Linked DNA regions of Homo sapiens: all the other regions are reported to be linked to region 1. The links are microRNA targets in miRTarBase. Many come from high-throughput screens and were not tested one by one. Region 1 holds a microRNA gene; each other region holds the end of a gene's coding sequence.

Region 1 (7,160 bases):
TTTTGTCTGAGTCTAATGGGAAGTGATTGGAGGGCTCTAAGCAAGTGACACGGTCTGATTTCAATGTCCAAACCTCACGGCGGCTGTACGTCTGAGAATAGGCTGTGCGGGCAGCCGTGGGAGGAAGGAGAGCAGACAGGAGCCTCTCTAGCATCCAGGGGGAAGAGGATGCTGGCTGGGACTTGCTGGAGGAGGGGGGAGAGAGAGGTGGGAGGAAATGAGATGTATTTGGGAGGTTGTACCTAGAGGACTTACTGATGGGCTGGAGTGAGGAAGAGGAAACAGGCCTGAATCCCAGATTTCTAGCTTGAGCAACCCAAAGACGGGTGGTACCATTTACCACGGTGGAGGAGACTGGTGGGAGGCAGGTGGACAAAGAAGGGGGGTTGGGAGGAGGTTTTGCTGGTCTTTAGGCTTGTCCTGATTCCAAAGTCAAGAAAGTCATTATTTATGTGCCTTTCCTATCAGCCTATTAGACCTCATTTTTATATGTGGTTAAACTGTGGTTGAGCCCACTGAGTCAAGAGGGCTGAGAGATAGTACCAAGGAGCCAGTTTGGTATTTGGGGCGGTCTGCTCCTGGGACAAAGGGCTCCCAGTCTAGTGTCCGTGCTCCCCAGCTGTCACCCCCCTCCCAATCATCTCCCCAAGGTCCTTCAAGCCATGTTGGCAAAGCTCCCAGGACAGTATGCTCTGGCCCCAAGATGTTTTGTCTCATCCCTAATCTCCCCTGAGCCTCCCTCCTTTTCTCAAAATGTCTTTTCCAGTGCCCTGGCTTGGGTCAGTGTCTAGAAGGTGGGGTGATCAGGGGCTGGACCAGGAACCTGGCAAGCAGGGAGATTTGAGCCTGATGCTGGTTTCAGCTCCCAGCTGGTGTGGGCTTCTCAGTTCCCTTCTCTGAGAATTGTAGATTTCTGACTGCAAAATGGGACACAATCCTTCCTTTCTTTATGGGGTTAGAGGTAGGAGCTTTGGAGTCAGGAAGATCTCAGTTCAAATCCTAGCCAGCTATGTGACCTTGGGCAGGTCACCTCTCTAAACTACAGTTATATCACCTGTGAAACAGGAATAATAACCCCCTTCCTAGAGGACTCTGGTGAGTATAAAGCAAGATTATGGCTGGGTGCGGTGGCTCACGCCTGTAATCCCAGCACTTTGGGAGGTCGAGGTGGGTGGATCACTTGAAGTCAGGAGTTCGAGACCAGTCTGGCCAACATGGCGAAACCCCATCTCTACTAAAAATTAAAAAAGTAGCCAGGCGTGGTAGCATACACCTGTAATCTCAGCTACTCGGGAGGCTGAGGCAGGAGAATTGCTTGAACCCAGGGAGCGGAGGTTACAGTGAGCTGAGATGGTGCCACTGCACTCTAGCCTAGGCAACAGAGTGAGACTCCGTCTCAAAAAAAAAAAAAAAAAAAAAAGCTAGATTATGAAGTTTTGGATTCTCACACCCAGAGGGTCAAGATACACGGCAGCTAGTGCTACTGTTCTTGCACATATAAGGAGACCATCCATCCATGAGGGCACAGGCAACAGGCATCAGTTCCTAAAGCAAGTGGGAAATGATAGGATGTGGGACCATGAGCCTTAGTCTACATGTCACAAGCCAGCACACACACAGACTTCAGGCTGGCCTCTGCAGAGCTAGGAAAGTCCAAAGCACACTGGATATTGTTTTGTGACTTCATTATTTTGTCTCTGTGCCTCAGTGTCCCCGTCTGTGAAATGGGGATAATGCTTGTGCCTAGCTCATAGGTTGTTGTGAAGCTTCAGTGAGCTAGCTTTTTAATTGCTAAATATGTAAGGTGTTTAGAATAGTATCAGGAATGGGCTCATTTTCCTCTTGTAGTAGTTGTAGGTTTTCATCAGTATGTGTCCTCTAGAAGGAAGATTTTCTTTAGTGCAGTAGACACTTCTCTTCTCTCAGCTGCAGAAGGAGGGAAGAATGGATAAGCACTGGGCTAATGACAATTTACAGACTGACAATTTGGGGAAAAGGTGCAAGGTTGAAAGATTCATCCTAGCATATTAGAGCTTGAAAATGGACCTAAGAGTTCCATGAAATTCAATAGTTTCTTTCTTTCTTTCTTTCTTTCTTTCTTTCTTTCTTTCTTTCTTTCTTTCTTTCTTTCTTCTTTCTTTTTTGCATCAGAATTACTCACAAAAGTTTCAATAGTTTCTAAACTCCAGACCTCAGAGCAGTACCTGTCTACAGTGATGTTTTCTCCAGTTTAGCGCAATATAGAAAAACAACATACACAATGCAGTAGATTTTTCTTAAATCCAAATTTGTTCCATTTTGAGATTTTGAGGTTTTGTTCTTTATGCTTTTAGTGTTAAAATGTCCTTTCTTCTCTTCTCTTCTCTCTTTTCTTTTTTCTTTTCTTTTGTTTTGAAACAGCGTCTCACTCTGTCCACCCAGGCTGGGGTGCAGTGGCGTGATCTCGGCTTGCTGCAGCCTCAACTTCCTAGGCTCAACCTATCCTCCTACCTCAGCCTCCTGAGTAGCTGGGACCACAGGTGTGTGCCAGCCCCAGCTAATTTTCGTATTTTTGGTAGAGACAGGGTTTCACCATGTTGGCCAGGCTGGTCTTGAACTCCTGGCCTCAAGTGATCCACCTGCCTCAGCCTCCCAAAGTGCTGGGATTACAGGCGTGAGTTACCACTCCCAGCCTTAGCTGGGTAATTATGAGAAGCATCTGCATTTTCTTTATTGTGTTGGTGATGATCTGCACATACCCAAAGAACTAAAAATAAATGGCAGGAAGTCTGACTTCTTTGAAGCTGGGTAAATATTTATTTTCCCAAAGATCGAACCTCCTTGATACGGATGTAAAGTTACATGAAATGTGCCTTAGGTCTGCAGACTGTGGTCTATGGCTCGAATATACAGGTGGTCAGGATTTACACTGAAACTGTTAGCTGTAAAATTACTGTCTCCCCCACCGAAAAAAAAATTTCTGCCCCACTCACCTTGATCCACTGCTGGATCATGGCCAGGGCATAAAAGCCACTCCGGACTGGGCGCGTGGCTCACACCTGTAATCCCGGCACCCGAGGTGGCCAGATCACTTGAAGCCAGGAGTTTGAGACCAGCCTGGCCAACAGGGTGAAAACCCATCTCTACTGAAAATACAAAAATCAGCTGGGCATGGTTGTGCATGTCTGTAGTCTCAGCTACTTGGGTGGCTGAGGCACGAGAATCACTTAAACCTGGGAGCCAAAGGTTGCAGTGAGCTGAGATCGTGCCACTGCCTGGGCGACAAAGTGGTTTTTCCTGTCTCAGAGTGAAAAAAAAAAAGAGACACTCCCAGTTTGCCCTGATGCTGCCCTGATTCTATTTCACCTCCAGCCTTGACACACTGAGCAAATGGGCTCCCTTCCCTAAGGCCTACTTCCTCCATCTGGCAAATGGGCAGGAGCAAGAGAAGGCAGGGAAAGAAGGCTAAATATTGATCCTAACTCTTGTAGTGTCATTAATCCCTGACAAAGGGCCTCAGAGCTCGGCTTGTCTCTAAGCCCACTTTTCTCCAATCAGAGGGCCAATATTCCAGGAATAGTCAAGCCATGGGATAAAAACGGAGCATCAACTTTTCCTTAAATCTTTTGGGGAGAAATATGAATATACTATGGAGTAGAATGCAACATTTAGATGAACGTTTTTAAAAGAAAAATTCAACTGAAAAGAGATTTCCCAGCTGTGGCTGCTGCTGTAGATCAAGCTAACCAACTTGGGGTCCAAGTTCGTGCTTCTCTGGCTTAGAGGATGCTCTGATCCTCCAGGTCCTGTGAGGCAAATGTCATTTCCTGGGGGCTCAGCATAGGCCAGAGACATTTGGTCAGGAATGAAGATGATTTGTGACAGACAGCAGAGGTAAATTCAGTCCTCCAAGGCCCTGGCAGTCTTCCTTAATGCACCAGGCACTGGTCTCCAAGCTCAAGACCTTTTGCAGTGAGCCCAGTGAACCACTGTGTGGGCAGTCACTTACAAAGGGGAACTCCAAGAAAAGGACCCTATGTCAGCTACTCCCTCAAACTCAGGCCGACTTCTCCAATGGGCTCAGTAGACACAGGGCCCTGTGGTGGTTAATTTTATGTGTCAACTTGACCTCCCAGGTGCTTGGCTCAACATTATTTGGGGTATCCCGTGAGGGTGTTTCTGGCTGGGATTACTATTTGAATCAATAGACTGAGTGAAGCAGACTGCCCTCTCCATGGTGGGCGGGCCTCATCCAATCTGTTGGAGGTGAGGCCTGAATAGAACCGAAAAAGTGGAGTAAGGGAAAAATCAGGCTCTCTCTACCTGACTGTCCTTTGAGCGGGACGTCAGCCTTCTCCTGCCTTCGTTCTCGGACTGGAACTCACAGCACTGGCTCTCCTGAGTCTCCAGCTTGCCAAGTGCGGATCATGGGACTTCTCAGCCTTCAGATACATATGGGGCTGAGACAGTCCCATGATCTGCAGTTGGCTATAAATATCTATCTCCTTCCTATTGGTTCTGTCTCTCTGGAAATTCCAGACTAATATAGGCCCTCTACTTTTAGGGGACCACGAAAATGTTTTAATTTTAATTTCTTTTAAAATTAGAAGAAGATGACTATAATAGTAATGAATACATACAAATGAATCAAGTTTGGATTCAATTTGTCTTTATGCCAATGTAGTCACAAAATATAATTTTTAATATATTTTTATGGAAGAATGGGCCCACAGAGGCATAAGTGCCTAAGCGCCATGAAAGCCATGATGTGGCCCTGCTGACACTCTGCAGCACCCCATCCTTGAGGGTTAGGAGGTCAACCCACTGAACCAAGGGGTACACATTGCTTCCTTGCACCTGGGAGCCTACGTGCACCCGTTGGTTCAGTGGGTTGGCCAGAATGGTGTTTCTACTGCCTTCCACTGACCTTGAAGAAGAGGTTATTTTTGGAGCTATTGTCTTGAGTTTTATCTATTAATAGAAAAATTGTGTGTGTGTGTACTTCTACCTAGCGGTCCAGAAGGCAGAGTGAACGAGAAGCAGGCCTAAGATAAGGAACAGCTTCTCCTTCCAAAGAAGGTGACTACCAAGGAGCACTCGTCCCTGCCTCCACAACCAGTTTTCCTCTGTGTCCTGTCCTGGTTCTTGTCTAATTAGGTTGACCTCTCTCTCCTGTAGACCAGGACCAAGCATTCAGTGAGCATACATGACGTGTCAGATACTGTTCAGGGACAGCAAAGGTAAACAACAGGACACCTGCAGCCTTCAGAGGCAAACAGCCTTGTAAACAAGCAGTCAGAGCTGAGTACAAGTGCTGTGGGAAGACACAGCTTAATTCTGCCTGGATACCCTGTGAAGGGTGTGGAAGGACGAACATGTGACCTTAGGGAAAACAGGCAGGTGTATCCTTCCAGCCTCCCAAAGGGAAGATTTTGTTGTGTGTGAGGAATGTCAGAAATGTAATAAAGCCAACGACGTTATATTAAATGAGTTCTGGGCTGGGTGAGGTGGCTCATCCCTGTAATCCCAGCAGTTTGGGAGGCTGAGGCAGGAGGATTGCTTGAGCCCAAGGGCTCAAGACCAGTCTGGGCAACAATGGTAAAACCCTGTCTCTGCAAAAAATACAGAAATGATCCAGGCATGGTGGCACATGCCTGTAGTCCCAGCTACTTGGGAGGCTGAGGTGGGAGGATTGCTTGAGCCCAGGAGGCAGAGGATACACTGAGCTATGACTGCGCCACTGCACTCCAGCCTGGGCAACAGAGCCAGACTCTGTCTCAAAAGAAAGAAAGAAAAAAAAAATGAGTTCTGTACATTGTGACCCCCAAATTACAAATCTATTTGTTTTATGACTGCATAAGACTTTTCTTCCAGCTAAGAAGTAGAAACAAGTGTAAATTAAGAGTGCCATGTTGCAGAACACCTACCACTACCACAAAGTATGTTTGCCCCACAACCTTTTTAATCACCTGCAATTTTGACAGGAAAAGAAAGGAAAGAAGGCATTTCAAGCCGATGGCAAGGCACAAAGGGTAGGAGGGCCAGTGTTCTGGGAATGACAGGTAGTCCTGTACAGTCAGAAGGAGGGATGCATTCCAAAGTACAGTGGAGGGACAGGCATAGGATAGACATTTAGGAAAAAAAAAAAGAAAGAAAGAAAAGAGAAATAAAAATGTAGGTACCAGACACAGTGGTGCACACCTCCAGTCCCAGGTACTCAGGAGGCTGAGATGGGAGGATTTCTGGAGGCCAGGGGTTCAAGGCTATGATCATGCCTGTGAATAGCCACTGCACTCCAGCCTGGGCAACATAGTGAGATAACATCTCTAAAAAATAAAAAGAAAAAAATAGATGCAGGAATGGCATGTCCCCAGTTAAGCCTCTCGTCCTGGATGGGATGAGGAAACAGGTACAGAGAAATGTGAAAGGAAAATAAATCTTGGGGCCCCTAAATCACTAAGCTAAAGGGAAAAGTCAAGCTGGGAACTGCTCAGGGCAAATCCCCCTCCCATTCTATTCAGAGTCACCCCTCTGCTCACTGAGATAAGTGTATATCTGATTGCCTTCTTTGGAGAGGCTAATCAGAAACTCAAAACAATGCAACCATTTGTCTCTTATCCACCTATGATCTGGAAGCCCACTCCCCACTTCCCCTTCATCTTGAGTTGTCCCAGCTTTCCGGACTGAAATAATGTACATCTTACACATATGTATTGATGTCTTATGTCTCCCTAAAATGTATAAAACCAAGCTGTGCCCCGACCACCTTGAGCATATGTTGTCAGGACCTCCTGAGGCTGTGTCATGGGCATGCATCCTCAACTTTTTGCTAAGGTTTATTGGCAAAATAAACTTTCTAAATTAACTGAGACCTGCTCAGATTTTTGGAGTTCACAGAAAGGAGCATTCTTGCTTTTCAGTGGAGGAGAGTGGCCCCTTTCTGGTAAGTGTGATGAAGTATGCATTCAGAGCATGTTTTTCAGCCTCTGAGCTATAATCATCCCAGCCAATTTAGGAACCATATAGTATGATAGAGGAAAAATATATGTTGGGACTTTGTTCTTGACTTCTGACTCAGAGCTCATAAGACCCTTGGAATTTCCTGAGTGATAGGAATGTCTTTTGTTATTCATAATAAGGCCCTTCCTTACACACCTGAGTTTATGCTAATGAGGTAACTC
Region 2 (7,000 bases), not on the chromosome of region 1:
TACAGTCTTTGCCACCAACCCCTTCTTAGGGTTTGAAGAGGGGCCACATCAGATATCTTTGGAAACCCATGGCAGGAGTGAGCTTTTCTCTGGGCACCTCTTATTTCCATCCTGTATCCTGGGTCTTTCCCACCTACTCAGGCTTTGGGTAAAAAGGCCAGGCTATTAGAACATCATGGGGGTGGCGAGGCCTGCAGGAGGGTGGCTTACCACCCATTCCGAGAAAAAAAATCCATGCTTGATAAAGCCTCCGGGACTCTAGTGGTAAAGTTATTAGTCAATCTTTCATCAGTGGTTCCTGGCCTTTTTATCCCAAACAACCTTTTATTTTTATCCTCCTAAGGTTTTAGCTTCTCTCCAAATAAAACTTTCTTAAGGACTACTTTTGTAGTTTTTAGGTAGTGAAAGATTCATCTAATATTTCTGATCAGCATGAAATAACCAGTTGCTATACCAAAAGCAAGGAAATTTGATGCTTCATTTATTCTGTAATATTCCATACACGATTTTAAATTATAATAGGCCAGGCGCCGTGGCTCATGCCTGTAATCCCAGGACTTTGGGAGGCCAAGGTGGGCAGATCACTTGAGCTCAGGAGTTTGTGACTAGCCTGAGCAACATAGCAAGACCTCGTCTCTACAAAAAATGCAAAAATTAGCCAGGCATGCTGTCATGCACCTGAAGTCCAAGGTGCTGTGGAGGCTGAGGTGGGAGAATCGATTGAGCCCAGGAGGTCTAGGCTACAGTGAGCCATGATCATACCACTGCACTCTAGCCTGAGTGGCACAGTGAGACCCTGTCTCAAAAACATAAACATAAAATAAAAATAAATAAATTATTACGGGTGCAGTGGCTCATGCCTGTAATCCTAGCACTTTGGGAGGCCGAGGCGGGCAGATCACTTGAGGTCAGGAGTTTGAGACCAGCCTGGCCAACATGGCGAAGCCCTGTCTCTACTAAAAATACAAAAATAAAATAAAATAAAACGAGCTTGGTGTGGTGGCAGGTGCCTGTAATCTCAGCTACTCAGGAGGCTGAGGCAGGAGAATCACTTGAACCCAGGAGGCAGAGATTGCAATGAGCTGAGATCAGGACACTGCACTCCAGCCTGGGTGACAGAGCAAGACTGTCTCAAAAAAATAAATAAATAAAAATAAATGAATAAATTATAACAATAGCTTTAGGTCCCCCATTATCAGGGAAAAGCCTTTAGAGATCATGTTGTCCAGCCCCTTCCTTTTTTAGACAGGAGAACTTACTCAGAGATAATAAGTAAATGACATACAGTTTATACAACAAAACTTCCTTGGGAAATGATGCTTTGCTTTTCCTGGGAGACCATTTAGTGTTAGGGTCAGGAGGAGCTATGGGGAGGTGAGGGCAGCCAGATGCAAGGGGAGTAGAGGTCTGGGCTGTGCCTGAGACTCTCACAGATCCTTCCCCTTCCTGACTTCCCAGGTCTGGTGTGACCTGCGTCAGGTTTCAGGGAGCTGGGCTGCAGACTGCTGATGCTCTAGTGCCTAGACCTGCAGCCTTGCTGTCTTCTCCCACCCCAGCTTGAGGACCAAATACCACTCTCCTCTCTGTTGGAGTGGATTTTTCTCCTAAAACCAAAGGAGGCACTCTTCTTCCCCAATCTGAAGTTTTTGTATTTTGCTATTACAGACCTGCTCTCTGGTCTCTAAATCTGGATTCCCAATGTACCCTGGGTGCCATAGAGTTGGCAGTTACTTTCCTGGGGGAAGAGGGTAGGACTTCAATGTTCTGAAAGTGACAGATCTCCGAGTTCCAGATATGGGTGTTCAGCAAATTTCTCAGTCTCTTCTAACAGGCCCTGCTTTGCAGGTGACCCGGCGCTTTGGGATCCCAGGGCTGAAGAAAATCATGGACTGGTTTGGCTACTATGGAGGCCCCTGCCGCGCCCCCTTGCAGGAGCTGAGCCCCGCTGAGGAGGAGGCACTGCGCATGGATTTCACCAGCAACGGCTGGCTCTGAGGGCAGGCAGGGTCCATGGCTGGCCTGAGCCCATCTCAGCCTCCTGCCTTGCACTTGCAGCCTGAAGCGGAGAGCACAGGGGGATGAGGGTGGCAGGCAGCGGGGAGCCGATAGAGGCTCCTTTGCCTGCTGTGGTCCTCCAGGCAGCCTTTCACAGGCACGCCCATGCATATCTCCTATTCTAACGGCCCCTGACCTCTCCCTTTTGGATCCTAAACTGTGTCTCTGGTCTGAAGACTGGGAAGGAGCAATTTCTCAATTTATCTTTCTACTGTGGATGCTTTCCTACGCCCTGAGGCACATGAAGTCAGAAAGGAAGGGCAGAGGGGCAAGTAGGCACAGTAAGGGAATTTTCTTTTCTTTTTTTTTTTTTTTGAGACAGAGTTTCACTCTGTCACCCAGGCTGGAGTGCAATGGCATGATCTCGCCTCCTGGGTTCAAGCGATTCTCCTGCCTCAGCCTCCCGAGTAGCTGGGATTACAGGCGCCTGCCACCACGCCCAGCTAATTTTTGTATTTTTAGCAGAGATGGGGTTTCACCGTGTTGGCCAGGCTGGTCTTGAACTCCTGACCTCAGGTGATCCAACTGCCTCGGCCTCCCAAAGTGCTGGGATTACAGCTGTGAGCCACTGCACCCGGCCGGGAATTTATCAAAGGGGGGACTACTTAGATTTGGGGCTTCAAACCTGAGTCTAGCACAATGCAGCTGGAGGCCAGGGCTACTCCTACAAACCCAAGTTCTGACTCCTTCCAGGGAAGTATCAGCTTAAGAAACTTGATCAGGAAAGTGACACTGGTCTTTCAAAGAGCCCTCTTTACCCTCCCATCCCTGCCCTCCACACTGCAAGCTGCATTCCAGCCACAACGCCCTTTTCTAAATCTATTTTCATTCATCTCCTATTCTGGTCTGTAGCCTTGATTCCAACCATTGAATGCACGGAGACAGCCCAGTGGCTTGTCAGATTGGTAAATAATGACACCTGGTGGATAAATGTTACATTCTAGAAGACTATTCTGGTCAGCCTAGGTCTGAAACACTAAGGAGACTTGGCCTGAGATAGGGCCATCCACTTGCCTACAGGCACTCTGCTTTTATTATTAAAAATAGTCACTTTGTTACTATAATAAAATTTAACAGAAAAAATTAGTGTGGCTATATAAAGATGGACACTCTATTGCTATGCAGATCTTAGGTTTCCTGGCCAGATGTCAAGAACCTTTCTAAAGGCAAAAGAGCTCTGATGGTCTGCCTTCTCCCAGCTCGAAGAGTGTCCCCAGCAATACTGAGCCAACAGGCATTCACTTACTGGAGACCTGGGGAAGGGGTAAGAGGCAAAAGAGAGCAAGTGAGCTATTTAGAAACAAACACTTAGCACTTTTATTTTATTTTTTTGAGACAGAGTCTTGCTCTGTCATTCAGGCTGGTGTGCAGTGGCACGATCTCGGCTCACTACAACCTCTGCCTCCCAGATTCAAGTGACTCCCCTGCCTCACCCTCCCGAGTAGCTGGAATTACAGGTGTTCACCACCATGCCCGGCTAATTTTTGTATTTTTAGTAGAGACAGCGTTTCGCCATGTTGGTCAGGCTGGTCTCGAACTCCTGACCTCAGGTGATCTTCCTGCCTCGGCCTCCCAAAGTGCTGGGATTATAGGCGTGAGCCACTGCACCCCTTCAGCATCCTTTTTGATTAAAGTGCTAAGTGTTTAGGGCCAGGCAGCACTTTGGGAGGCGGAGGCAGGAGGATCACATGAGGTCAAGAGTTTGAGACCAGCCTGATCAACACGGCAAACCCCATGTCTACTAAAAATACAAAAATTAGCCGGGCGTGGTGGCACACGCCTGTAATCCCAGCTACTCAGGAGGCTGAGGCACAAGAATCGCTTGAACGTGGGAGGTGGAGGTTGCAATGGGCCGAGATCGTGTCATGGCACTCCAGCCTGTGCCACAAGAGCAAAACTCCATCTCAACAACAACAACAAAAAAGGATGCTTTCTCCAAAATATTTAACCTTTTTCAGTGGTAATATTTGACTAGTGGCAGAAAAATGGAGATACATTGTAAAAAAATTACTCCTTAAAAGAAAGTGTAAGGTTAAAAAGAGAGGTAAATAGATACTTGTTTAGGGCAGAGGCTAAAGGAGAGAAAATAAAAGATCTCAATCTTCAACCCAAAACCAGGCTCTGAATGGCACTACAGCTTGGGGCTTAGTGCCTGGGGTCCTCTCACAGGCAACTTCCAGAGGAGCAAGGCTCAGAGGAGAATCAAGTTTAGGACTTGGGGGAAAAGTTAGGGCTAGGCAGGCAGGGTAGTGCACTGGGTAAGAGCTCAGCCTCTGGGCTTAAACAGGTCTGGGTTTAAGTTCTGGGATCTGCCCCTTAGTGTCTATGGGACCTTGGAGAAACTGCTTAACTTCCCTGAGCCTCATCTGTAATACAGGGATAATAATAGTACCTTCCTCCAACAAGGACGTGCATGTAAAAGGGTTAGCGTGGGGGTCAATGTTCCACCACTCTCCTGTTGCAGAAAAAGGGAAACTCCGGCAGGAGTGGACCTGCCAGAGGTAACCCAGCAGGTGTGGCCATAACTAGTCTCAGGACTTAAGTACTCTGATGCTCAGGGTGAGAGAGGTCCAGTAAAGGGAGCTGGAATCAGAAAGGCTCGGTTACAAATCTCACCCAGCTGTGCTACCTACTAGTTGGGACAGCCTGAGATTGTCTGATTTAAATAAGAAAAAAAAGTTCATACGTCCTCCTCTGTAGAGGCTGAGAAAATTAGATGACTTGATAAAGTGTGCAGGGTCAGTTCCAAGGGCTAACCCGATTAACTTTTACAAACAGCAAATGGGTTGATATTCATGAAGACGCAGGGCCAGAAAGTCAGGAAAACTAGGTATAGGCAGTTCTGGTGATTTCTTTATTCTTTATAAACACCTTTTTCTACAGTACAATTCAGAGAATAAATAGAGGCACACGGCTATAACTTCCACCACAATCTGCTGTTGAAGAGACATTCAATGTGAGGCTAGGGAGCTAGAGGTGGGGGACGTATTTGGGTACCAGGGTAACGGGAGGCCTACGTAATAAACTGCAGAGATCCCATCAGTAAGGTCTGATTGCGGCCTGACGGTCAAGGCTCATGATAGAAGAGCTACAGTGAGCCAAATGCTCCTTTAGTTCCCCACAGTCCTAGAGTAGGTCCAATTCTACCAAAACCCCAGGGGTTCGGGTGAGTCTGATTTATTGGTCCACTGGGAAGAAACTGTGTCAGCCCAAGCCATCCGTATGAATTCAGTTCACTCCATGGTAGTGCCTGAAGTGGCCTAAATATTCTACCCTTTTCCCTGGAGTTAGTCACAAATACAAGTAATAAGATTACTGTTTACATGAGTTTTTTTCTTGATTGTCCCAAAAAGGGATCCTGTTCCCCATCTAAGGAAGGAGAGAGGCACACATGGGGATTATCTGCTCTAAGTTGATGAAAGAAGACAGCCTGTCTTCTAAAGGGAGGAGGAAATAGCACTCTTACCGAATCCTTCACGGGGACATAGGCAGGAATGAATACCAGTCTGATCAGACCAAGTGGAAGCCTGCAGCCATGATTCCAACCAGCATGAGGAGTAACATATGGAAAAGCTCTGCCAGCCAGGCACAGTGGCTCACACCTGCAATCCTAGCACTTTGGCAGGCCCAGGCAGGAGGATCACTTGAGCCCAGGATTTTGAGATGAGCCTGAGCCACATAGCAAGACCCTGGCTCAATTTTTTATAATAATAAAATTAAAGGCTGAGCGTGGTGGCTCACGCCTGTAATCCCAGCACTTTGGGAGACCAAGGCGGGTGGATCACGAGGTCAGGAGTTTGAGACCAGCCTGGCCAATATGGTGAAACCCCGTCTCTACTAAAAAAAAATACAAAAATTAGCTGGGTGTGGTGGCGCGCTCCTGTAGTCCCAGCTACTCAGGAAGCTGAGGCAGGGGAATTGCTTGAACCTGGGAGGCAGAAGTTGCAGTGAGCTGAGATCATGCCACTGCACTCTAGCCTGGGCGAGAGTAAAACTCCATCTCAAAAATAAAAAATAAAATAATAATAATAATAATAAAAAAATTAAAAAAGAAAAGCTCTGGCCTTGACTTTCACAGGGCTGCTGTACTGAGCCACCCCTATCTTTTCCCTATTTCTCCAGAGTGGCACAGAGCACTGGCCCTAAGCTGGGGCTAGGATCACCTGTCCCCAAAGCAGCAGAACGAAGGTTCTGTATCACTTGGCAGAAAATGAAGCAGAAGGGTCACAGCAGGCTACACTGGGTAACCTGAGGTCTTAGGAACAGAGTATCAACCAGTGAGAAGAGGTGGCTCCTCTGTCCTCCAGCACATAAGGGTTAGGGAAAGACAGAACCACCAATGACTGCTGCAGGGTCTGCTGGCCAGCATCCTCAGCACTTTTCTGTGGTCCAGTTCTGGAATGGCAGGTGACAGGGCACATACAAGGCCTCTGCTCCACTGTCATTGTCAACTCATCTCAGCTCTGATTCATTTGTTCACCTCGAATCAACAACAGGGGCACTGGCTTTACCCAATACTTATCAGCTGGTGCCCACTGCGCTGTCAGGCAGTGAGATTTCTGGCTGACTTGGAGGCGCTCTGGGCCCGCTGAACAATGGCAGAACACTTCTCACGTCGCAGCAGCTTGTTGTTCTCAAAGAGACCTTCATTGCGGGGGATTCCATGAGAACCATCAGGGAAAGTCAGCAGGCCTTTGAGGAGGGCAGAGAAAATATGGGAGTGACAATGGCATTAATGTCTCAAAGATGAGACATATCTTTGGCCTTGATATGTCCAGGCCAAAGAAGAGAAAAACTCCCAGCTCTACTCAGGAGTACTCTATTGATGAGTTCAATGGATAGGTGTCAGGGACGGCCACTATGGATTGCTGGACACCCGCAGGATTAAAACTAAACAGGTATATTTCCACCCATATTATGCCCACCTAAGTCAGCCATCCTGCTG
Region 3 (7,160 bases), not on the chromosome of region 1:
GAAGGCCTTTAGTGTATCTGGACAACTTACTCAGCATCTGAGTATTCACAGTGGTAAGAAACCCTTTGAATGCAACAAATGCGGGAAGTCTTTTAGGTTCATTTCTGTACTTAAAGCCCATCAGAATATTCATAGCGCTGAGAAACCCTACGAATGTAAGGAATGTGGCAAGGCCTTTCGTCATGCCACAAGCCTCATATATCATGACCGAACTCATGCTGGTGAAAAGTCCTATGAATGTAAAGAATGTGGGGAAACTTTTAGTCATGCTTCACATCTTATTATTCATGAGAGAATTCATACCAGTGATAAACCCTATGAATGTAAAAGATGTGGGAAGGCATTTCACTGTGCCTCATATCTTGTTAGACATGAAAGCGTTCATGCTGATGGAAATCCCTATATGTGTGAAGAGTGTGGGAAAGCTTTTAATAGTAGCCATGAACTTAGTATACATCATAGAGTTCATACTGGTGAGAAACCCTTTAAATGTAACAAATGCAGAAGGTCCTTTAGGCTTAGATCCATCCTTGAAGTACATCAGAGAATTCATATTTGATAGAGAAATTGTGGCATATACAGGTAGTAAAGAAAGCACATTGTGTCAATGGATTTATCCCACTGAACAATTTGAATGAAGACAATGTGGAATGGCTTTGAGATACAGTTCAGTTTTTATTAGGCATCAATTTGTATTGGTGTGAACTTTTCAAAATGTAAATCATATATGCAGTTTCTTTGGTATGACCTGTGTTAACTCAGATTCAGAGAATTTATAATGTATTTTTTTAATAACATAAGAAAACTTTTCTGATATTCCTCTAGTTTTGGATTGCCAAAATATTCACAGTAGAGGAAAACTGAGAAAACGTAGGAAACCATTCTTTATACTTGCATGTAAACATCTTCCAGCAACAATCATTTATTGTTAAACCTGGAAAAAGCCATTACACAGGAAACCTCTGTTGATATAAGCGATGATGGGAAAGGCTATTTAGCCACTCTGCATATTTAATGCTCATGATCAACATCTGCTTCCTATAGCTGGGATGATATGGGGGAAGATATTTATCCCTTCTGGGGATCATATATAAATGATGATAGTAGTACCTACAGTATAGTGCTGTTAGAATTACATGAGTTAGATGTGGAGGTCAGAGTGGAAGCAGGTGTGAGAGGGTCCCGCAGAAGAAAACATGGCTGCCAAAGTGTTTGAGTCCATCGGCAAGTTTGGCCTGGCCTTAGCTGTTGCAGGAGGCATGGTGAACTCTGCCTTATGTAATGTGGATGCTGGGCACAGAGCTGCCATCTTTGACCAATTCCGTGGAGTACAGAACATTGTGGTAGGGGAAGGGACTCACTTTCTCATCCCATGTGTACAAAAACCAATTATCTTTGACTGCTGTTCTCAACCACGTAGTGCGCCAGTCATCACTGGTAGCAAAGATTTACAGAATGTCAACATCACACTGTGCATCCTCTTCCGGCCCATCACTAGCCAGCTTCCTCGCATCTTCACCAGCATTGGAGAGGACTACGATGAGTGTGTGCTGCCGTTCATTACCACGGAGATCCTCAAGTCACTGGTGGCTCGCTTTGATGCTGGAGAACTAATCACCCAGAGGGAGCTGGTCTCCAGCCAGGTGAGCAACAACCTTATGGAGTGAGCAGCCACCTTTGGGCTCATTCTGGACGACGTGTCTTTGACACATCTGACCTTCTTGAAGGAGTTAACAGACAGGTGGCCCCCCAGGAAGCAGAGAGCGCCAGATTTGTGGTGGAAAAGGCGGCCATCATCTCTGCTGAGGGTGACTCCAAGGCAGCTGAGCTGATCGCCAACTCACTGGCCACTGCAGGGGACGGCCAGAGCGAGCTGTGCAAGCTGGAAGCTGCAGAAGACATTGCATACCAGCTCTCATGCTCTCGGAACATCACCTGCCTGCCGGCAGGGCAGTCCGTGCTCCTCCAGCTGCCCTAGTGAGGCCCCAGCCTACCTGCACCTCCGTGAGGCAACTGGGCCACAGCCCCGATGATTCGTAACACCACCTTTCGCCCTCACCCCAGAAATCACTGAAATTTCATGATTGGCTTAAAGTGAAGGAAGTAAAGGTAAAATCACTTCAGATCTCTAAAAAACAAAGAATTACATGAGTTAGTACATGAAAAAATTATGGGAAACTACATGAAATATACTGTTACGTTCAATAAACATTAGCTTCTGTATATAATAATATCATTACTTGTGTTATTTTTAGTGCATTTTGACGAAATGAAAACCATTAACCATTCAAGTTTAATGAATTCAAAAAAGTTTTATGCTTTTTAAATTTGAATTCATTCTGGGTAAACAGATAATAAGTAAAAACCATAAGAGGGCTTTCATTCCGATCTGTTTAGGTGAATCAGACACTTAATCCTGGAATGAAATTCAGATGTAAGCTGGGCAGTGTGGCTCACGCCTGTAATCCCAACACTTTGGGAGGCCAAAGTGGGTGGATCACTGGAGGTCAGGAGTTCAAGACCAGACTGGCCAACATGGTGAAACCCCGTCTCTACTAAAAATGCAAAAATTAACTGGGCGTGGTGGCAGGCGCCTGTAATCCCAGCTACTCGGGAGGCTGAGGCAGGAGAATTGTTTGAACCCGGGAGGTGGCAATTGCGGTGCGCGGAGATCACACCACTGCACTCCAGCCTGGGTGACAGAGCAAGACTCCATCTCAAAAAAAAAAAAACCTGCCTGAGAAAGCTCAATGCTGTTCTGAAAACATACTGTTCCAGCCAAAACCTGTAAATAGTGATAGGTCCTTAAGCCCCCTCTTAAAGCAGTTACTTTAGAAAGCTTGCAATTATAAACCATTTCTCTGCCCCTTTGAGATGCAAATCTACCACCAAGAGCTGTCTCCTCAGCTGAGTTTGAAATGCAAACATTCAGAGAGCCAGCTCTTGCTCCAGCCTCTCAGTTGCTGTGGGAGTGTAAGGGCCTAACTTTGGTGGCTGTCTTGCTCCAACTTTCACAACTACCTCAGTCGTAAAGATACAAGAAGTTTGTTTCTACTCTGGATAAATACCAATTAGTTAAAAAAAAAAAAAAAAAAAAACCTGATGCCTTAGTCATATGGACCAAACTCCCCCGTAACACCTTTCAGTGTCTTCTTTAGTACACCCCAACATTTTCAACAACTCCTGATTTTTGTTTCCCAAAGTGGAGCTCAGTTCACACTGGATTCTGTTCCCTAATGCAGTAGTTATTACTGAATAAAATCTGTCTTTACTGCCTTTTACTATTGTCTCACTTTGTTTCTTTTTCTTTTCTTTTTTTTTTTTTGTTTTTGTTTTTTTGAGATGCAGTCTGGCTCTGTGGCCCAGGCTGGAGTACAGTGGCCATGATCTCGGCTCACTGCAACCTCTGCCTCCTGGGTTCAAGTGATGCTCCTGCCTCAGCCTCCCAAGTAGCTGGGATTACAGGCATGTGCCACCACACCCCGCTAATTTTTATATTTTTAGTAGAGATGGGCTTTCACTATGTTGGCCAGGCTTGAACTCATAACCTCAGGCAATCCACCCACCTCGGCCTCCCAAAGTGCTGTGATTACAGGCGTACGCCACCACGCTTGGACTCTTTTCTTTTCTTTGAGACGGAGTCTCGCTCTTGTCACCCAGGGTGGAGTGCAATGGTGCAATCTCGGCTCATTGCAACCTCCGCCTCCCAGGTTCAAGCCATTCTCCTGCCTTAGCCTCCTGAGTAGCTGGGATTACAGGTGCACACCACCACGCCTGGCTAATTTTTGTATTTTTAGTAGACACGGGGTTTCACCATGTTGGCTAGTCTGGTCTTGAACTGCTGACCTCAGGCGATCTGCCCACCTTGGCCTCCCAAAGTGCTGGGATTACAGGTGTTAGCCACTGCATCTGGCCTTTTTGTTTCTTAAGACAGGGTCTAGGTCTGTGGCCTAGGCTGCAGTGTAGTCATGCCATCCATAGCTCTTGGGCTCAAGTGATCCTCTGGCCTCAGCCTCCAGAGTAGCTGGGATTATGGGTGTAGACCACCAGGCCCAGCTAATTAAAAAAAAAAAAATTTGTAGGCATGGGGTCTCACTATTTTGCCCAGGCTGCTCTTAAACTTTTGGCCTCAAGCAATCCAGCTGCCTTAACCTCCCAAAGCACTGGATTACAGGCATGAGCCACTGCGCCCAGCCCCACTGTATTTCTCTTTGACAAAACCTAAACATTCTGTTTATTTGAACACCACTTATATTTATGTTAATGTTCTGAGTAAATGTAAATGAATACTGACAAAATAATAGTATAACATCAGAGAGATTTTTGTTTGTTTGTTGAGACGGAGTCTCGCTCTGTCACCAGGCTGGAACGCAGTGGCACAATCTCAGCTCACCACAACCTCTGACTCCCTGGTTCAAGCAATTCTCCTGCCTCAGCCTCCTGTGTAGCTGGTATTCTACTGGTATTAGCTGGGTGTGGAGGCACGCGCCACCACACCCAGCTAATTTTTGTATTTTAGTTTCACCATGTTGGCCAGGATTGTCTTGATCTCCTGACCTTGTGATCGGCCCACCTCGGCCTCCCAAAGTACTGAGATTACAGACGTGAGCCACCACGCCCAGCCTAGAGAGGTTTTTTTAAACAAAACGAATATGTAACTGATATCTTGTATTTTAAATTTAAGAGGGCATATGAAATTGAATGCATTCTGTGAGAGGAGAGTCAGAGTATTGATAAATTTGGACTTATTAAAATTCCTGGAGTAATGACTTAAAGAACCTACAAACTATTAAAGAGAAAATTGGAATAGTAATACATCAATCCAACATAAAGAAAGGAGAGAAAAAGGAAACATGCAACAAAAAGAAAACAAATTAAAATGCCAGGAGCTAATGCCTGTAATCCCAGCACTTTGGGAGGCAGAGGCGGGAGGATCGTTTGAACCCAGGAGTTCAAGGCCAGCCTGGGCAACATAGGGAGACCCTGTTTTTAAAAAGTAATAAATAAGGCTCCGAAGCAGGGAATGGGGGCAAGATGGTTTACATCTCAAACGCACAAGTGTTGGACAACTGGAGTCAGTCTCCATGGAGATTATCTTTGATAACAGATTTCTTCTGGGGAATAGCTGAGTTTGTGGTTTTGTTTTTCAAAACTCTGCTTCGGCAAGATTTGAAAAAAAGAAGAAGCTATGGAAACTCATCTGATTTCAGATACGATGACGATGGAAGAGGGCCACCGGGAAACCCTCCTGGAAGAATGGGTCCAATCAATCATCTGGGTGGCCCCAGTCCTCCTCCAATGGCTGGTGGATGAGGAAGGTGTCTGCTCTAAGAAGCAACTGGACATGCATATTCATAGCAGAAGGAAACCATCAAGAAGTGGAGTGCTGACCATGCTGCAGCAGTAGATGAAAGTGTGTGTCTAAACAAGGACTGCTCTGTGTCCTCACAGATGACTGAGGTCATGCTGGGAGTTCCCTCTGCAGGGAACTGGCCTGATTGACATGCAGTTCCACAAATGCACGTTTGTCTCATTATCTTTAGGGTATTAAAGTATTAATATAGTTTTTGTTGTTGTTGTTGTTGTTGTGGTTTTGAGACAGAGTCTCACTCTGTCGCCCCGGCGAGTGCAGTGGTGCGATCTCGGCTCACCACAACCTCCGCCTCCCGGGTTCAAGCGATTCTCCTGCCTCAGCCTCCCGAGTAGCTGGGACTACAGGCGCACGCCGCCATGCCCAGCTAATTTTTTGTATTTTAGTAAAGACGGGGTTTCACCATGTTGCCCAGGCTGGTCTCGAACTCCTGAGCTCGGGCAATCCGCCTGCCTCGGCCTCCCAAAGTGCTAGGATTACAGGCGTGAGCCATTGCCCCCGGCCTCCTCATCTTTAAATTCACAAAAAGATTGAATATGAAGAAAATAAAAGCCTGTGTATTTAGCACTAAAAAAAAAAAAGAAAATATAATAAAATGGCAGCTTTAAATCTATCAGTGGCTATATTAAATGTAAATAAATTAAATACTCCAGTTAAAAGAGATAGACGTTCGGGGTGTATTTAAAAGCCACAGACACACATGGTCTTCCGACTGCCCTATTCACATGCTCAGCCCCTGACAGCACTGGCTCTGGGACTAAGCCCCTCGGGCAGCCCTGAGCCTCCCAGGGCTGAGCACCTCGCTTTGAGCAGCTCCGCTACCGCGTCCTCCAGTCGGGAGGCGGCTGCGTTCCTGCGCGAAGCACGTCGGCCGCGAAGGCCTCTGGGAAATGTATTCCGGGCTACCAGCCCACAAACGCGGCGGAACCGGTTGCGGGGAGGTTGCTTGAATTCTCTCAGCTGCGCCCCCTGACCTAGTAGTCGCTGGCACAAGCTGCGCCCGGAGACGTGGGAGCGTTCTCTTGTTTTCCGAGTGCGCGGACTCATCGGGTCACAGTTTATGCTTTTATGACGCGGTGAGTCCAGCCACTGATTCCTAACGGTTTAGAGTGGGGAGGTTACGCTTGGGCGTCCTGGACGCTGGCCCAAGTGGTGGCTGTAGAAGACGCACGGATCCCGGGATGGGGCTGGAGGTTTGCAAGAGTCCATCCGAGGGGATTCTGGCTGCGAGTGTGACAGAGTATATGAAAGCCGCATGGAGGATCTGATTGTAGTGTGAGCGAGAGTGAGTGCCCGCGAGGGATCGTCACCTGAATGAAAGTCTCGGATTCACCGCCTCTTATCTTCCCTTCTTCGACTGTAAAATGGTGAAAATAAGGGTGCTTCTTCCAGGACGTCAGTTTACTCGAAAATTTGGAAAAGGCTAAATAATTGATCTGATAAATACTATAAAACAGGATTTCTGTGTAAAAGATAAATTTATTATTGTATAGAATACCAAATCAGTGTGACTTTTAAATACAAGAAGAAATATTTTAAAGGAACTTATTTTGTGGGACTCCTGCTTTTGTGTCAGACCCTCAGAGTAGGCATTTATTCTGTTGTTTAGGGAACACAACAGATTTGAGAAGCCTCGGATTAAGGAATAATTTATGAAGCTCCGTTGACTACCGTGGAGAGATCATAATTTGGGGTTCAAGATTCCAGGTAAGGCGCTATAACTCCACTTTCTGAAAAGCAAACCTTCGTTCAGAGAAGTCCTGGAGCCTTTTAAGGCTTCACCATTCCT
Region 4 (7,129 bases), not on the chromosome of region 1:
ATTTTTCCAGTGAAAAACTTGGAGGGACATTCTTGGCTCTTTCATCTAAGTTATTCATTCTAAGTTTCTGAAGTCATTTGATAAACATTTATTGAGTACCTACTATGTATGACACATTCTTGTAAGTGCTGGGAAGTGGTGATTAAATAGATGGAAAACATCATTCTCTTTCAGTTTCCTCATCCATAAAATGGATATAGAGTAAGCATACATCGTGTAAGAACAATGCTTGGTACAAGAAGGCATTCAATTAATGTCAGCTGTTATAATTAATCAGCTTCGTCCATTGTTGATCTGATTTCATCAATTTGATGTTTTTGGTCTTAAACTCTAAATAAAAATGTGTGATCTTCCATCTTATGTATTCTTCCCAACCCATTTCCTTAAGTTGCTACTCATCTTACTTTCATTAATATTACTAGGGCATTTGAAGTCTTGGAGAGAAGACATGATATAAAGTCAAAGCAAAGATGAAGTTAAAGTGGTCAGGGGTATATTACATTTTTCTTTTCTTTTGACACAGGGCCTCACTCTGTCACCCAGGCTGGAGTGCAGTGGTGCGATCACAACTCACTGCAGCCTCAGTCTCCCAAGCTCGAGCAATTCTCATACCTTAGCCTCCTGAGTAGCTTGGACTACAGGTATGCGCCACCACACCTGGCTGATTTTTAAAATTTTTAGTACAGACAAGGTCTCACTATGTTGCCCAGGCTGGTCTCGAACTCCTGAGCTAAAGCAATCTGTCGGCCTCAGCCTCCCAAAGTGTTAGGATTACAGGTGTGAGCCATCGCACCCAGCCATAGTTTTAAAATTAGGTTTGTACATATGCAAGTAGCCTCAGGTCGAAAGTTTATATTCACAGAGATTTTACTGATGATTATGTTCTGGTCTAAGATTGGGTTATAAACCAGAAGAAGCTAAAAAAAAAAGGTTTCTAAATTTATTTTTCTAAATACTAGATCTTAAACTGATTTAAAACACTCAAAATTCCTTAATACTCTTCCCCAAGAATCTTGCTTCTTGTACACAGGGTGCACACTTAACATGTTATTTTATCTATGAGTAAGAACATTCCTTCCTTCCATGCTGCTCCACCCACTCATGTTTTCAGATGCTAATGGCTTGGCCTGATAAATGCATGGTTCATTCTAAGCCCATACCATAAATTTATCACTAAGTTCCAAAGGTTTCCTTTCAGTGTAGACCTTGATCATAGCACATAATTTGTTAGTTATTTTAGTGCAATAGCACTAAAAAAATCGAAGTTAATGTTCATTCACATAATTTGCAAAGCTAATACTTAAAACTGATGGAAGTAATTCAATAATTCAAAATAATAAGTGATATTTTTGAGGTTAAGTTTATTTTCAAGAGTTCAAAACAATAAAACAAAACATTTTTATTTTCCTATTTCCCTCTTACAGGTTTGGAGAAGACTGGAACAATTATTCATACATTTGTATTACTATCAAGCATCCCACATACCTTAAGGATTGTATACTGCATTTTGATACAATCTTCTTCACTAACAATATAGTAAATTATTTTTATACATTCTGTGTAGGATTAAAATAAATAACTATAGAAATAATTTAACAAATCTTTATAGAGCATCTAGTGTGTGCCAGGTTTTGAAGACACAAAAATAAATAAAAAATGGTCCCTGCCATTAAGAAGTTCACAGTGTAAAGGGGCAAACACACAAATAAAATAGACAATTTAATGTCATATGACAGTTTTGAGAGAGGTCTATACAAAGAACTACAAGAACATCTAAAAAGTCACTTAATCCAGAACAGTAGAAGTTATGGATTGTTTCCAGGCCAAGATGATAAGTTTTACAATAGATTTTTGCCAAGAAAAGAATCAATGGTGGGGATTACTCCAGGTATATCAAACAGCCTGTGCAAAGGCAGAGAAGTGAGAAAATTTTTATGAAATAGTTTTGTAAGACTGAACAGAAAGATATAGGGTGGGACAGTGGTTAGAGAACAGGCTGGAGAGGTAGGCCAGACCACATCATTAAAGGCCCTATGGGCTTTAGTGGGGAATTTTGATTTCTACCTGTATGCAGTCAGGAGTTTAAGTTAGGGTGACGTGCTAAATTTGGGGTTTAACAAAGACTACACTGCTAACAGTAAAAGGAAGGAACTGGAGGCAGGAACACCAGTAAGAGGTTATTTTAGAAATCCCAATGTCAAATAAGGACAAGAATTAAGTAATGAGGCAGAGATAAAGATGGGGAAGAGGTGAATTACTTAGATATTTGGATGATAAAATCAAGTAAGAATTGACTCGGCTGGACTTGGAGAATGATGGAGAAAAGTAAAATATGGTGATTTTCTAACAGGACATGCCATTCACTGAGATAGGAACTGGAGGAAGAACTACTTTTATGAGATGGTAAGTTTTGATTCAGGTGCTTATATATAAACTATCTTTGGATATATCAAATATTTTATATATATATATATATACTTATACTATCTTTGGATAAAAATCCAAAAGATAATAGCATATGTATTTCTGGAACATCTCATGGAGATCTGATGTTGGGACACGGACATAGACGGCATTAGCACCAACAATGGTAGCTGACATAGGAGTTGTAGATGGGATCACCAAGGATGTTAGAGTATAGAGACGAGATGACAACAGGTGGAACTTTGGGGGAACACTAACATGTAATGAGTAGGTGAAGGAAAGCGAGTCTTTGGAGGAAACTGAGAAGACGGGTTAGAGTAGGGAAAGAAAAGTCCAAGAGACTATAGTTCCAACCCATGGAGGAGAGAGTTTTAAGAAGTACTTATGTGTGTCAGTGTGAGTGTTTATGTGTGTCAAATATATTAACAAGTAGAATGCATCCAGTGGATTTAGACATTAAGTCACTTGTAATTTGGATACCAACAGTTTCAACCATATGGAGTGATGGCCATATTATAGCAGATTAAGACTGACTGGTGAGGAAGTCAGAGTGAAATCTAAGATGTTAATGTAAGCCACAAATAATACATATTTGAAAAATGGGCAACGAAACCACATCAGGTGGGGGTCCCAGTATGATGGTGAAACTCAATTTGAATTAATTTAGGTAAGCAGATAAGGAATGGCTGGGACCAGGGTCTGGAATATAATCAGGCCTCTTTCCCTGCAATTGTTCTTTCCCCTGGTGGCTCCACATTCTCTTACTTAAGATCCGTTTTCGTTTTCTTTTTTTTTTTTTTTTTTTTGAGACGGAGTCTCGCTCTGTCGCCCAGGCCGGACTGCGGACTGCAGTGGCGCAATCTCGGCTCACTGCAAGCTCCGCCTCCCGGGTTCACGCCATTCTCCTGCCTCAGCCTCCCGAGTAGCTGGGACTACAGGCGCCCGCCACCGCGCCCGGCTAATTTTTTGTATTTTTAGTAGAGACGGGGTTTCACCTTGTTAGCCAGGATGGTCTCGATCTCCTGACCTCATGATCCACCCGCCTCGGCCTCCCAAAGTGCTGGGATTACAGGCGTGAGCCACCGCGCCCGGCCAAGATCCGTTTTCTTTGTGTGGCAGGGAACAGTTTCATCAGCAAAGAGGAAAGGGCTTCTTTCTTCCAACTTATGAAAAGGGGGGATTGGGTCATGTTTCCATCCTTGGACTAAACACGGAGGCTGGGAAAAACAGGATAATGTAAAAAAAAAAAAACAAGAAAACAAAAAACCCAGCTGGGTGCGGTGGCTCATGCCTATAATCCCAGCACTTTAGGAGGCTGAGGCAGGTAGATCACAAGGTCAGGAGGCCAAGATGGTGAAACCCCGTTTCTACTAAAAATACAAAAATTAGCTGGGCATGGTGGCGGGCGCCTATAATCCTGGCTGCTCGGGAGGCTGACACAGAGAGTTGCTTGAACCTGGGAGGTGGAGGTTGCAGTGGGCCAAGATCATGCCACTGCACTCCAGCCTGGGTGACAGAGTGAGACTTCATCTCAAAAAACAAAACAAAAAAACAAAAACAAAAAACTGCCCCCCACCCCGGCCAAAAAAAACCACACACTTGGTTGGAAGTGAGAAGGGTGAGTCTCCCTAATTAGGATAACTTCTATTAACAGATGATGATGATAGATTGTAAGGGGGCTGGACAAAAATAATAAACATCCATTACAAAAAAACAGCTAAAAATATATGTGTACATTTACTATTGTACACAGATGCTATTCAGCAAAATGCTTATAGCTTTAATTTTTCCCATACTTTGAAAATTTCCAAGTGCTTTCTTATCTTTTATGAAATAAAATTAGTAGGATACCTTTCTTTCTTCCTTTTTTTTTGAGACGAAGTTTCACTCTTGTTGCCCAGGCTGGAGCGCAGTGGCGTGATCTCTGCTCACTGCAACCTCTGCCTGCCAGGTTTAAGCGATTCTCCTGCCTCAGCCTCCCAAGTAGCTGGGATTACAGGCACCTGCCACCACGCCCGGCTAATTTTTGTATATTTAGTAGAGACAGGGTTTCACCATGTTGACCAGGCTGGTCTTGAACTTCTGACCTGAGGTGATCCACCCACCTTGGTCTCCCAAAGTGCTGGGATTACAGGCGTGAGCCATGGCGCACAGCCCCTTTCTTTTGTTAAGAGTAAATGGGCAGAAGAGAATGTTGTTGGGTCTAGAAATTATACTCTATGATCATCAGTGGAATTGGAGAGAAGACATAGGAAGAGACAGGCTATCAGTCTTCAAATATCTGGCAATCATAGACAGGAAGGACTGAATCAGCCTGGTTCTAGAGGGTGGAAGTGGGGCTAGAAGGCAAACGTTACAGAGAGGTGGTCTTCAGTGCAAGCCTAGACTACAACTGGACTGTTCTGTGACATAACAGAGATGCTATTAGTAGAAGTACAGGATTTCAGCTTGGGCTGGCTGACTGACAGTGTTCCTATTGAGAAAATTACTGAATAGTCCTGGACACTTGACTGCCTGATTTTCAAGGACTCTTCCAACTCTAAGAAGATAGTAGGAGACAATTAATTATCTACTGCTTGATTCAACATACAGAATTTGCATATAGTGGGGCATCTTTCTAATATTTGCCTATTTGTTAAATATTGGTTTCCTGGATTCTTATATTTAATGCTATAGAGAACAGTTTTTAAGAAGAAAACCCCACACTAACTAAAGCAGTTTGTAGACACTTTTTTACTATGGTGGTAACCACAGATTCAGAATAAACAATTTGTTATAGTGAGTAGCATATAATCTGTTTTTATGAAAAAAGAGAAACAAAAGTTTTTAAAAGTTAAAATAAAGGTTCCTAAAAAGTTATAAACTTTAACAAAGACAAGTGTTAAGGATTCTTTAGAATAACAGTTTTCTTTTTAATATGGAGAAAACAAAAAGGAGCTGAAAGTCCTTTGTCTTGCTATCTAAGAATAGCACACTAGATGGTGCTATAAGGCTGTCAGAAAGAGAGTTTTACCAGGCTAGTGTGGCATTCTGATGGTAAAGTGTTCTGGAAACTTTCCACTTACTTTCAGCTCCTGAGAGCCGTTCCAGGTTTATATAAAATTAATGGGAATCTCAATTGGACAAACTTTAGCCCTGAGATGACATTAACTTAAAACTAAACCACAGGCTTAACACATTAAAAATAGTTTCACTATTTGACATTTCAATCTGATTCCACTGAAATAGAAATGTTAAAGTCATTAAAATGTCAATGTATTAATTTAAATGTATTGCTATTAATTTCACTTAGCTAGTCTTCCCATGAGCCTAGTTATAACCACCACTTAATGAATCTTTAAGTCAGTTTAAAGTGGCTTCCTGAAATTTTGAATTATCATTAAGCTGAACATACAAATCACTCTTACATTTAGTATTGCAAATATATTAACACAAATACATGAAACATTGTATTTGGAAATCACTCTATCAGTATATTATTTCTTATAAAAATAACATTTCATGATTTTTCCACATTACAATAAAACCAGAAAAATTTTACTAAAGTGCAAAACAAAAATAAAGCTTTACTTTTATAATAGTTCCATTTCATTTTCTTTTAAAAAGGTGAACAACAAAATGAACGAATAAAGATATCGCTTTTGCAACCTAAGAGTCATTTAAGTTTTAAACTTTCAAAGACCTGAGATTTGTGATTTTTTTTCCCCTTATCTTTCCAGTTCTGCTTCTAGAATTTCCCCCCATGTATCTGCATCCATTGGGTACATGATTTTTTCTGGTAGGCTAATGGGAGAACAAATGTTGCTGTATCTGCCACTTAGCCATTCGTGTTTCACTTTACTCTTCTGGTAATTCCTCAGCAGTATCACCTGAAAGAGGTAAATCACCGTTAAAAAAGACTGTAGTAGGTGGTTGGTTAGTGAATGTGTTTAAAGCAAGAGAAGCAGATTGACAGGGCTGAAAAAAAGAGTATTTACATTTATATATACGTACATTAATAAATGTATGTGTCTGTGTACGTGTGTGTATGTATATGTGTATTTATACTGAGTGGCATAAGGTGAAGTGGAAAGAAGGAGCTAATTCCCTTCTGGTTAACGCAGGAAAATTCCCGAATTTAGAATTTTAAAAATGCAAAAGGATAAATGAAAGATAGTGTGGAAACAGTGTGGTTAGCAGGAAAAGACTAATAACTTTAACTCATTTCCAAGAGTCAACACACTGTCTGTGTTATTCTGCATATGTAATTCTGACTCCTCCAAGCAGAAGTTAGAATTGGCGCAAACCTGCTATCATAACGCTGTCAACAACACTGCAGATCGCAAAGATTAAACTTACCCTCCAGGAATAACCACTTTCTAGATCATCATCTATTTCTCTTCGGCACACAGCTCTTACAGTCATGCAGTGAGGTTTCCATAAAGAGTCACTGTTTCTTATTGTGTCATTCCAGCTCCTGCATGTCAATGAAGCCCTGCACAGACTCCGAATGTCCAGCTGACTGAAAATTTTAAAAGTGATTTCTGCAGGCAGCAGTTCAAAAAAGTTGTTTTGACTCTCATTTTTTTCCTTCTCAGCATCCACAGAGTTCGCTTCTGTGTGAGAAACTCTTAAATTATTGTTTCTCTTGGAGTTTTTATGCATAGCTTAATGTTTTAAGTTATCCTCATATGTAACCTAAAAGGCAAAATTTAAACATGCTCAG

What was found. The annotated mature microRNA hsa-miR-5694 reads CAGAUCAUGGGACUGUCUCAG and lies in region 1 at 4,440-4,460, opposite strand. An mRNA with a match to its seed (bases 2 to 7 or 8) in the 3' UTR can be bound and repressed. Matches are read on the target gene's strand: a 7mer-m8 pairs with bases 2 to 8, a 7mer-A1 pairs with bases 2 to 7 and ends in A, and an 8mer does both.
Region 2: miRTarBase lists MORN4 as a target of hsa-miR-5694. Seed matches in the 3' UTR shown: 7mer-m8 at 6,011-6,017.
Region 3: the mRNA of ZNF607 is a reported target of hsa-miR-5694. The part of its 3' UTR that is shown has no 7-base or 8-base seed match.
Region 4: miRTarBase lists FBXO48 as a target of hsa-miR-5694. Seed matches in the 3' UTR shown: 7mer-m8 at 3,908-3,914 and 7mer-A1 at 3,750-3,756.

What each region holds. Positions count from the first base shown.
Region 1 is chr14:67,437,463-67,444,622 of GRCh38, forward strand. It overlaps MIR5694 (microRNA 5694), which reads right to left and starts at 4,468; the gene lies at 4,393-4,468. It also overlaps a transcript of GPHN not described here.
Region 2 is chr10:97,609,665-97,616,664 of GRCh38, forward strand. It overlaps MORN4 (MORN repeat containing 4), which reads right to left. Exons shown (of 5, transcript NM_178832.4): 5 at 4,891-6,747. The coding sequence ends at 6,599. It overlaps HOGA1 (4-hydroxy-2-oxoglutarate aldolase 1), which reads left to right. Exons shown (of 7, transcript NM_138413.4): 7 at 1,846-3,138. The coding sequence ends at 1,995. Among named protein-coding and RNA genes, the nearest start is that of MORN4, 20 kb to the right of the region's middle. RefSeq lists an enhancer at 2,662-2,881.
Region 3 is chr19:37,691,439-37,698,598 of GRCh38, reverse strand. It overlaps ZNF607 (zinc finger protein 607), which reads left to right. Exons shown (of 5, transcript NM_032689.5): 5 at 1-2,228. The coding sequence ends at 559. It also overlaps the pseudogene ZNF781 and the pseudogene SELENOKP1. Among named protein-coding and RNA genes, the nearest start is that of ZNF607, 25 kb to the left of the region's middle. RefSeq lists enhancers at 1,397-2,071, 2,748-3,423.
Region 4 is chr2:68,458,078-68,465,206 of GRCh38, forward strand. It overlaps FBXO48 (F-box protein 48), which reads right to left. Exons shown (of 4, transcript NM_001024680.3): 3 at 6,763-7,101; 4 at 1,345-6,293. The coding sequence starts at 7,068. The coding sequence ends at 6,132. Among named protein-coding and RNA genes, the nearest start is that of FBXO48, 5.7 kb to the right of the region's middle.